Linked DNA regions of Homo sapiens: region 1 is linked to region 2. The links come from fine-mapping of genetic effects on gene expression. Tissue or cell type: whole blood. Region 2 holds a variant in brackets; the other region holds the start of a gene. All regions are shown on one strand. Distances are between the middles of the regions. Region 1 holds the start of DND1 (DND microRNA-mediated repression inhibitor 1). Region 2 overlaps LOC105378198 (a long non-coding RNA gene).

Region 1 (4,390 bases), 59 kb after region 2:
CAACATGATGAGACCCTGTCTCTACAGATTAAAAAAAAAAATTTTTTTTTTTTTTTAAATTAGCTGAGTATGGTGGTGTGTGCCTGTAGTCAGGAGGCTGAGGTGGGAGGATCACTTGAGCTTGGGAGGTCGAAGCTGCAGTGATCACACCACGGCACTTCAGCCTGGATGACAGAGACCCTGTCTCAAAAAAAAAAAAAAGGTACTACATGGAGATAAGCTTGAAGTTACTGTAAAAAAGCTACCTTTACTCTTGCCCTAAGTTATTTATTCTGATACGTCCTATGTACAAGTCAGTCAGTTCAGTCCTCATATCTACTAAAAGCTACCTTTATGCCCAAGGTGCTAGATGAGAAGACAGGGCCCCTGCCCTGGTAGAGCTGAGTTGGGCCTGGTCTCAAAATCCCGACTAGAGCCTGCTTTGTTTGCTCCTTGAAGGTGTTAGCCCAGCTCTCTTTTATCTGCCCCTTCCCCAGGCTTTGGAGGAGAAGATACGGACCACGGAGACACAGGTGCTTGTGGCATCTGCACAGAAGAAGCTGCTAGAGGAAAGACTAAAGCTTGTCTCAGAACTGTGGGATGCTGGGATCAAGGTATGGGAGGCAAGCCCCAGGGTGGCAGCAAACTTAGGTGTGCTGGACACAAACTGAATAAAAGCTCACCCATAATGGATCCTGCCATTACTTCTCAAAAGTAGAGCTAAGAACAGGGTGCCAGCTTGGACACCCTCTGTCCCTGAGGACAGCAGAAGCCAGCCTTCATCTTCTGCTCTTGTCCCCTGCAGGCTGAGCTGCTGTACAAGAAGAACCCAAAGCTACTGAACCAGTTACAGTACTGTGAGGAGGCAGGCATCCCACTGGTGGCTATCATCGGCGAGCAGGAACTCAAGGATGGGGTCATCAAGCTCCGTTCAGTGACGAGCAGGGAAGAGGTGAGGGAGGTGGGCAGGAAGGCTAAGGGACAGAGAATGTATGCCATTTTGGCAGGCCCATGCCCATTCAAGACCTGAGAAAAAGCCTGGCATTGATATTAGTACAACTCATAAAAGCCTTGAGGGCTTAACCTGTTACTGTGGTCTTAGTAGGGTGAGATCTCCATCCCTGCATATACCTTATGGTTTGTTGGCTCCCCCAAGAGGCACACTCTAGCCTGAGGTGTTTAATTAGGTTCCTGCTCCCAGCTGAGACAAGCCTGATGCCTAGAGGGCTAGAGGAAACTAGGCACTCGGGGAGCAGTGGAATGGAAGATGCTTATACCACCTTCTTCTCCCATCCTGGCCAGGTGGATGTCCGAAGAGAAGACCTTGTGGAGGAAATCAAAAGGAGAACAGGCCAGCCCCTCTGCATCTGCTGAACTGAACAAACTATCAGAGGAAAGGAAGTGGGACTGGCACTATTTGAGGTTAAGACAAACTGCATATGTACTTCAATTGCTTTGCACTTTTCCGTTTCAGCGGAAGACCTGAAGAGTGGTCAGAACAGAGCCTTTGATTTTTATTATGGTTATTTTATTGATTATTACTGGCAAAAACGGCCAGGTACAACACCTTTTTCATACAAGGCCCAGGAGGCTTAGTCCAGTCTGTGCTCCTGGGCTACAAGGACCCAGCCTGAGATGGTCCCATCTGCAGGGCCCCGCACCAGTTGGAGCAGATGCCTCCCCACCACCAATTGCCAAAGGTCCAATAAAATGCCTCAACCACGGAGTCTGCGTGTGTCAGTGATGCCTAGCCCCGCCTTCCCCAGCAGACCAATGTAGGGATGGAAAAGGGAGAAAAACAGTAAACTTGTGACCCTGAGGTTCTTGTCTCCAGCGTCCACCCTGCGGCTTGGGAGCTCCTCCTCGGGAGGCAGCCCCCGTACATACGCACCCGCGACTTTGCAGCTTTCACCTGAAGGTCTGAGCGAAGCCCGGGCGGCGCACGTGCAGTGGATACCTCCACCCCCCTGGGAGGCGGGGTCGCGCTCAGAGCCAATGAGAGCTTGCGGGGTGGAGGGGTAGGGAAGCTTCCAGAGGCCGGTGGGGAGGAAGTTATAAAGAGGGTACGAGGGGGCCAGCTGGAGAGCCATGCAGTCCAAGCGGGATTGTGAGGTAAGCGGCTGGCGACTTGGGGGCCGGCGAGCCCCGCCGGAGCGGGGGTCGGCTTTAGGGACCCCAGTACCACAGGAGAGGTGGGGGCGCGCTTGGCGATCCGCCATTCCAACCTTCCTTTCCCTCTCAGCTGTGGTGTGAGAGGGTGAATCCAGAGAACAAGGCGGCGCTGGAGGCGTGGGTCAGGGAGACAGGCATCCGCCTGGTGCAGGTGAACGGGCAGAGGAAGTATGGCGGGCCACCCCCAGGTACGGTAGTCCCAGCCCCTCCGCCTGTCCGGCTACACCAGCCCCCTTTGGGGGAGGGGCTGCTCCGAGCCTTCACTGTCAGAAACTGCGAACTACCCGGATTTATACCCCCCAGCAAAGGAGGAACTGTGGCTCCACGTCCACCCGCCCCGTCGAGGGAGGGGGCCAATCTCAAGGTGTACCTACTCTGTGCCAGCCCCCTTGTTAGCGCAGTCACCTAATTATGCCAACCACCCAGGGTACGGGTGTAAACCCATTTCACAGACCTTTGTTCACATCGCCTCCCACCCCCGCGCGCTGGGTCCGTGGGCTCAGAATTCGAAAGCGTCGCCTGACGGTGGCCTTGCATACCCTCTTCCCACAGGCTGGGTGGGCAGCCCGCCGCCAGCTGGGTCAGAGGTGTTCATCGGGCGGCTGCCTCAGGACGTGTACGAGCACCAGCTTATCCCGCTGTTCCAGCGCGTGGGCCGCCTCTACGAGTTCCGCCTGATGATGACCTTCAGCGGCCTGAACCGCGGCTTCGCCTATGCCCGCTACAGCTCGAGGCGCGGCGCGCAGGCCGCCATCGCCACGCTGCACAACCATCCGCTGCGGCCGTCCTGCCCGCTGCTCGTGTGCCGCAGCACCGAGAAGTGTGAGCTGAGCGTTGACGGCCTGCCGCCGAATCTGACCCGCAGCGCGCTGCTGCTCGCGCTGCAGCCGCTGGGTCCCGGCTTGCAGGAGGCGCGGCTGCTGCCCAGCCCCGGACCGGCGCCCGGGCAGATCGCTCTGCTCAAATTCAGCTCGCACCGGGCCGCTGCCATGGCCAAAAAGGCCCTGGTGGAAGGTAGGCTGGGGCGGGGGTGCTGGTTGGGGCCAAACGCGTTCTGCCCGGCACTTTATACTGAGCATAGCTGTTAAAGTTACAAGATCTTAGAGTCAAACATGCCAGAATTTGCAACCTTTTACTATTTGATCTCAGATTTTTAAAACTTCCAATGGTGCTACCACCACCGCTTACCTAAATTTGTGACACTTCCCGAGCATTACCTCCTGACTTAATTCTCAACCTTCCCCCACCCCCACACCGCAAAATAGGCACAGGACCCTCAAGCTATGAGGAAACTGTTAGAGAAATTGATTTGCTCAAGGGAATCCAACTGAGCTTTTTACTACTATAGAATCTGTTTCCTCAGACTGTTATGAGAATTAAGTAACATAATGGGTGTACGGTACTTAGCACACTGACTGACTTACAGCAAGTTTTCCCAGTAAAGATTAGCCATTATGATGGTTATGAGGCAGACAAAGCCTGCAATTAACCAGTACTTCTCCAAGGAAACTTGTAAGGTAGCAGTGTGTTATACTCCCTTTGCAAATAATGGAGGCTGAAGGCTTCATTGTCTTTTCTTACCCATGGTCACACTACCAGGAAATGGGAAGGCTACAAATAACAGGACTGTGTAGCTCCAAAGGGCTCACCACCTGGAGGCTTGGGCCCAGGGTTTAGACCTGCCCTTGTCTTTGCATTTTTCCTACAGGGCAGTCACACCTCTGTGGAGAGCAGGTGGCTGTGGAGTGGCTCAAGCCAGACCTGAAGCAGCGACTTCGCCAGCAGCTTGTGGGTCCCTTCTTGCGGTCCCCACAGCCAGAGGGCAGCCAGTTGGCTTTGGCAAGGGACAAGTTAGGGTTCCAAGGGGCTCGGGCTACCCTGCAGTTGCTGTGCCAACGAATGAAGCTGGGCAGCCCTGTGTTCCTCACCAAGTGTTTGGGCATAGGACCTGCTGGCTGGCACCGCTTCTGGTACCAGGTGGTGATTCCTGGGCATCCGGTGCCCTTCAGCGGCCTCATCTGGGTTGTGCTGACCCTAGATGGCCGGGATGGGCATGAGGTGGCCAAGGATGCTGTGTCTGTACGGCTGCTGCAGGCACTCAGTGAGTCTGGGGCCAACCTCCTGTGGTCTGCTGGGGCTGAGGCAGGTACCATGGTTAAACAGTGACTCCATTCTTTCTCCACAGGCACCCTGAATGGGCATGCAGAGCCTGTGTCAGGCCCCATCCCAGCAGGCCTGG
Region 2 (4,390 bases):
AAAATTAAACCAAGAGAGAAATCATAAATTCCATACAAATTGCTGAGGGTCACTATCTAGAGTCTGGGGGTATTCTTTAAGGTAATGGAGTATTTGATTAACAAGGAGCATGGTAACTATGTTTTCTAAAGTGAGGATTATAGGCTCTGGGAAAGGGATTTTGGACTTGGAGGTGGATGAGAAATTTTAGAAGTATCTAAAAATGGAATACAAGGGTAAGCATTGTAGCACAACATAGGATCTCCAGAATACATAATATTCCCAACGTCAGGGTAATCAGTCAATAACGCAGGTACTTGAGGCAATGGCAATGGTAATTTGTCTTAAGTCAAAAGTGGGCGAGTTAAAATACAGCCCTGGTCCAGCATCTTGGACAGGCAGTCCACCTCAGCTGTCATCTTCTTCTCAGCCATGAGGTGGAACCCTAGTCTAAGTCTGGTGTCAGATACTGGTGTTGAGGTCCAGTCTTCCGCGGAGGGAAGAACTTCGTTATTCCAAGTGAGAAATTGGTATTCAAATATGTTAAAGTCTTTTCGATAGAAAGCAATTTGGATTATAGCTTATTGCAAATGTTTTTAGAGAAGAATTAAAAACAGTAACTGTAGATGACAAAAACTTAGAATGGCTATGGTTAAAATCTAATGAAAGTTCTCAATTGACAAGAACATTTAGTTATTTACATTATATGTAGTATTTTAAGATAACAACCAAAATTATGACTGATAACACATTAGATCTTTCTGAATTTATATAAATTTTGAACCATTTATATCAACAACATATCATAGTGTAATTAAAAGAAGATCTAGTATTGCTTATTATTTGACAATGTTTTTATATAATTTACCAAATAAGCCTAATCATTTAAAATATCTCTATAAAATGAGAGATATATCTGTTGAAGCTTTTTAGGGGCCCAATTAGAAAATCTTAAAGTTAATTCTAAGTAAAAAGACTTAATTTAGGATTGATTTTGAGGATGTTTGTCAAAGATGTTAAAAGGCCCAAAATATTTGATCAAAACAGGATCACGGGTCATTGTAAAATAATATTCATTTAACCGAAGTGACAATCAAAAGACTTTAAAAGTAATACAGAAAGCTACATAAACATAAAAATATTAATCTTCTTAAAACTCAGTTTTCTGACTTGGTGCAGTGGCTCACGCCTGTAATTCCAGCACTCTGGGAGGCCGAGATGGAGAATTGCTTAAGCCCAAGAGTTTGAGACCAGCCTGGGCAATATACTGAGACCTCATCTCTACAAAAACCTTTAAAAAAAAATTAGCCTAGGATGGTGGCACATGACTGTAGTCCCAGGCGTTTAACTGTAGGAAAGAAAGTCTTGAAGCAGTTAATGAGGTAGGGGAGTTTTGAGGTGTGACCGAACTCTTACCTTGCCAAAGCCATAGAATCCAGCTTTTAAAGTTTTCTGGGGTCTCTTTTGCAACAAGGAGTCCATTTCATCTTGCCTGGGGACCTACGGGCTTTATTTTTATTTCACAGAGGGAAAAAGGGAACCTCATAACTGGTCAGCATGGATAAAAATTTTGTCCCCTATTTGGCCTTCTTTAACACCACGTTGGTGGGGTCTTGGGGTAACTTCTTATAGCCGCTCAGTGGTGGAAGTTTAGGCTCCTACTCAGCCTTTGCTGAAGTGGGTGGGGCCATAGTTGTTGGAGTGTGTGTGTGTGTGTGTGTGTGTGTGTGTTTGGTGTTTGGCTGGGGTAGAACAGTTATTGTCTAAGAATTTTATGTCTTTCTAAGCTGTCCTCTTCCTGATCCTGGTCCTATGAATAGAGAAAGCAGACTTTTGCTGGGGCTTTTAAAATCTGC[G/A]TCCATTGGCATTTCCAGATTGCCAGCTTCTTCAGTTCCAAGTCTGGAATACAAAAGGAAAAAAAAACTTACGACTGTGTTGTACCTTGAGTCTTGAGATCCCTAGCTGGTCTGCCTTTTGTCTGCCTTTCATTGTATTACATTTGTTTTATGTACAATGCTTTGGGGTTTTAGCAGGATGAATGGGGAATATTACATTTACTCCACCTTCCTGGAAGCAGAAGTATGTGTAATATTTTGAATAAATACCATAAACTATTCCATGCATTCATGAAATATGCAATTTCTCATTCACCAATGTAAATGGCTTGATTCACCATTATAGAACCATGCATAAGTACAACAAGGAAGTTTTATTTAGGGAAACTCAAGCAAAAATAAAAAGGCAATTTGTCAAATGTAAAAAGGTATTTGCCTGCAAATATAAGAAGTATAGACCAAGCGCAGTGGCTCACGCCTGTAATCCCTGCATTTTGGGAGGCCAAGGTGGATGGATCACCTGAGGTCAGAGTTCGAGACCAGCCTGGCTAACATGATGAAATCCCGTCTCTACTAAAAATACAAAAAATTAGCTGAGCGTGGTGGCACGCACCTGTAATCCCAGCTACTCACTCAGGAGGCTGAGGCAGGAGAATCACTTGAACCCAGGAGGCAGAGGTTGCAGTGAGCCGAGATCCTGCCACTGCACTCCAGCCTGGGCAACAACAGCAAAACTCCGTCTCAAAAAAAAAAAAAAAAAAAAAGAAGTATAATAAACACTTTCTATGTTCCAAACCTCTTGCTAAGCACTGTTGTAGCTCTCATAACCTATACTATATTGAGGAGCCCAAATTGCTTTCGAAAGTATTTCTACTTTCAAAAGTATTAAGTCTTTTGACTTACTTTCCATACAGCAATGCAAATAAGCAACTGCTACGCACAACAAAATAGATGAATCTAGAAACATAATGAGGGTCTTTGGCCATACCATCTTGAACGTGCCCGGTCTCCTCTGATCTTGGAAGCTAAGTAGGGTCAGGCCTGGTTAGTACCTGGATGGGAACATAAGGAGGAATGAGAAAATCAGTCACGTATTATTCCATTAATACAAAGTTGAAAAAACAAAACAATCGTAATATTAGAAATCACCTCAAGGCTTTCTTCTGAGGACAAGTGTGAGAGAAGTGACTACAGGAGGCTCTAGAAGGGCTTTATGGAACAGTCCTATTTATAGACATGTGGTGATTTCATGGTTTTCTTTACTTTGTATTAATTCATAGAGCTGTAAATTTATGATTTGGGTACTTTTTTGAAAATATACTATTTTATCTAAAGATGTATTTTTAAAAAAAGACGCACACTATTCAGCATTCAAGGTTAAATAAGAAAATACATTACGTGGGCCGGGTACAGTGGCTCACGCCTTTAATCCCAGCACTTTGGGAGGCCGAGGTGGGCAGATCACGAGGTCAGGAGATCAAGACCATCCTGGCTAACACGGTGAAACCCCGTCTCTACTAAAAATACAAAAATTAGCCGGGCGTGGCGGTGTGCACCTGTAGTCCCAGCTGCTGGGGAGGCTGAGGCAGGAGAATGGCTTGAACCCGGGAGGCAGAGCTTGAAGTGAGCCGAGATCGCGCCACTGCACTCCAGCCTGGGCGACAGAGCAAGACTCCGTCCCAAAAAAAAAAAAAAAGAAAAAGAAAAAGAAAATACATTATGTGAATTTATTCTATATACTTAAAATGAAGATTTTGTCTTTTTTCATGAAAATACAATGAGGTACCAAATTACAGCCATAAAATTGACAAAAATTTTTAAAGTTGTACAATGCCAAATATTGGGGACATGATACACTGCTGGTAGATGTGTAAGCTGGTAGAAATACTTTGGAAAACCACTGGGCAAAACTATAGAACTGAAGACATGAATCCACTAAATACTTAGCAGTTTGACTCCTAGGTATGTACCCTGGAGAAATATATGCTGAAGTGCCGCAGGACATATGTATAAGATGGGAATATCTGTTTTTTCTGGGTTTCAGTTATTATGAACAATGAACCAAAACTAGAAATGCTACAAATATCCATCAATATTAAAATGAATAAGTAAATCATCTTATATTCATTAAATGGAATAGTAACCCACAACATAAACAAAATGGATAAATCTTACAAATGTATTATTGAACAAAAGAAGCAAAACAAAACAAACACTTCAATATAACTATATTTATGAAAGTAATCAAAATAGGAAAACTAAATTATAGCACCCAGGCATTCATACATAAGTGGTAAAGATATAAAGAAGAGTGAGAAAATTATTATTATAAAAATCAGGTAAATGGAGGGGGCGGGCACAGTGGCTCACGCCTGTAATTCCAGCACTTTGGGAAGCCGAGGTGGGCGGATCACTTGAGGTCAGGAGTTCGAGACAAGCCTGGCCAAAATATTGAAACGCTGTCTCTACTAAAAACACAAAAATTAGCTGGGCATGGTGGCACATGCCTGTAATCCTAGCTACTCAGGAGGCTGAGAGAGGAGAATCACTTGAGCCCAGGAGGCAGAGCTTGCAGT

What was found. PIP is the estimated chance that this variant, and not a neighbour inherited with it, causes the effect. A credible set is the group of variants that fine-mapping cannot tell apart.
Region 1: DND1 starts here. The variant in region 2 is the best candidate, but not a certain one, in a credible set for the expression of DND1 in whole blood (INTERVAL, PIP 0.53).

The regions. Positions count from the first base shown.
Region 1 is chr5:140,671,220-140,675,609 of GRCh38, reverse strand. DND1 (DND microRNA-mediated repression inhibitor 1) reads left to right here and starts at 2,034. Exons shown (of 4, transcript NM_194249.3): 1 at 2,034-2,091; 2 at 2,222-2,339; 3 at 2,704-3,165; 4 at 3,860-4,390. The coding sequence starts at 2,068. The coding sequence ends at 4,317. WDR55 (WD repeat domain 55) reads right to left here. Exons shown (of 7, transcript NM_017706.5): 7 at 3,265-4,390. It overlaps HARS1 (histidyl-tRNA synthetase 1), which reads left to right. Exons shown (of 13, transcript NM_002109.6): 11 at 477-593; 12 at 785-931; 13 at 1,282-1,705. The coding sequence ends at 1,353. RefSeq lists enhancers at 1,569-2,364, 2,365-3,160.
Region 2 is chr5:140,730,573-140,734,962 of GRCh38, reverse strand. It overlaps LOC105378198 (a long non-coding RNA gene), which reads right to left. Exons shown (of 4, transcript XR_001742904.2): 2 at 2,803-2,866; 3 at 1,396-1,878. Among named protein-coding and RNA genes, the nearest start is that of ZMAT2, 32 kb to the right of the region's middle. The variant G/A (reference allele first, on the strand shown) is at 1,836.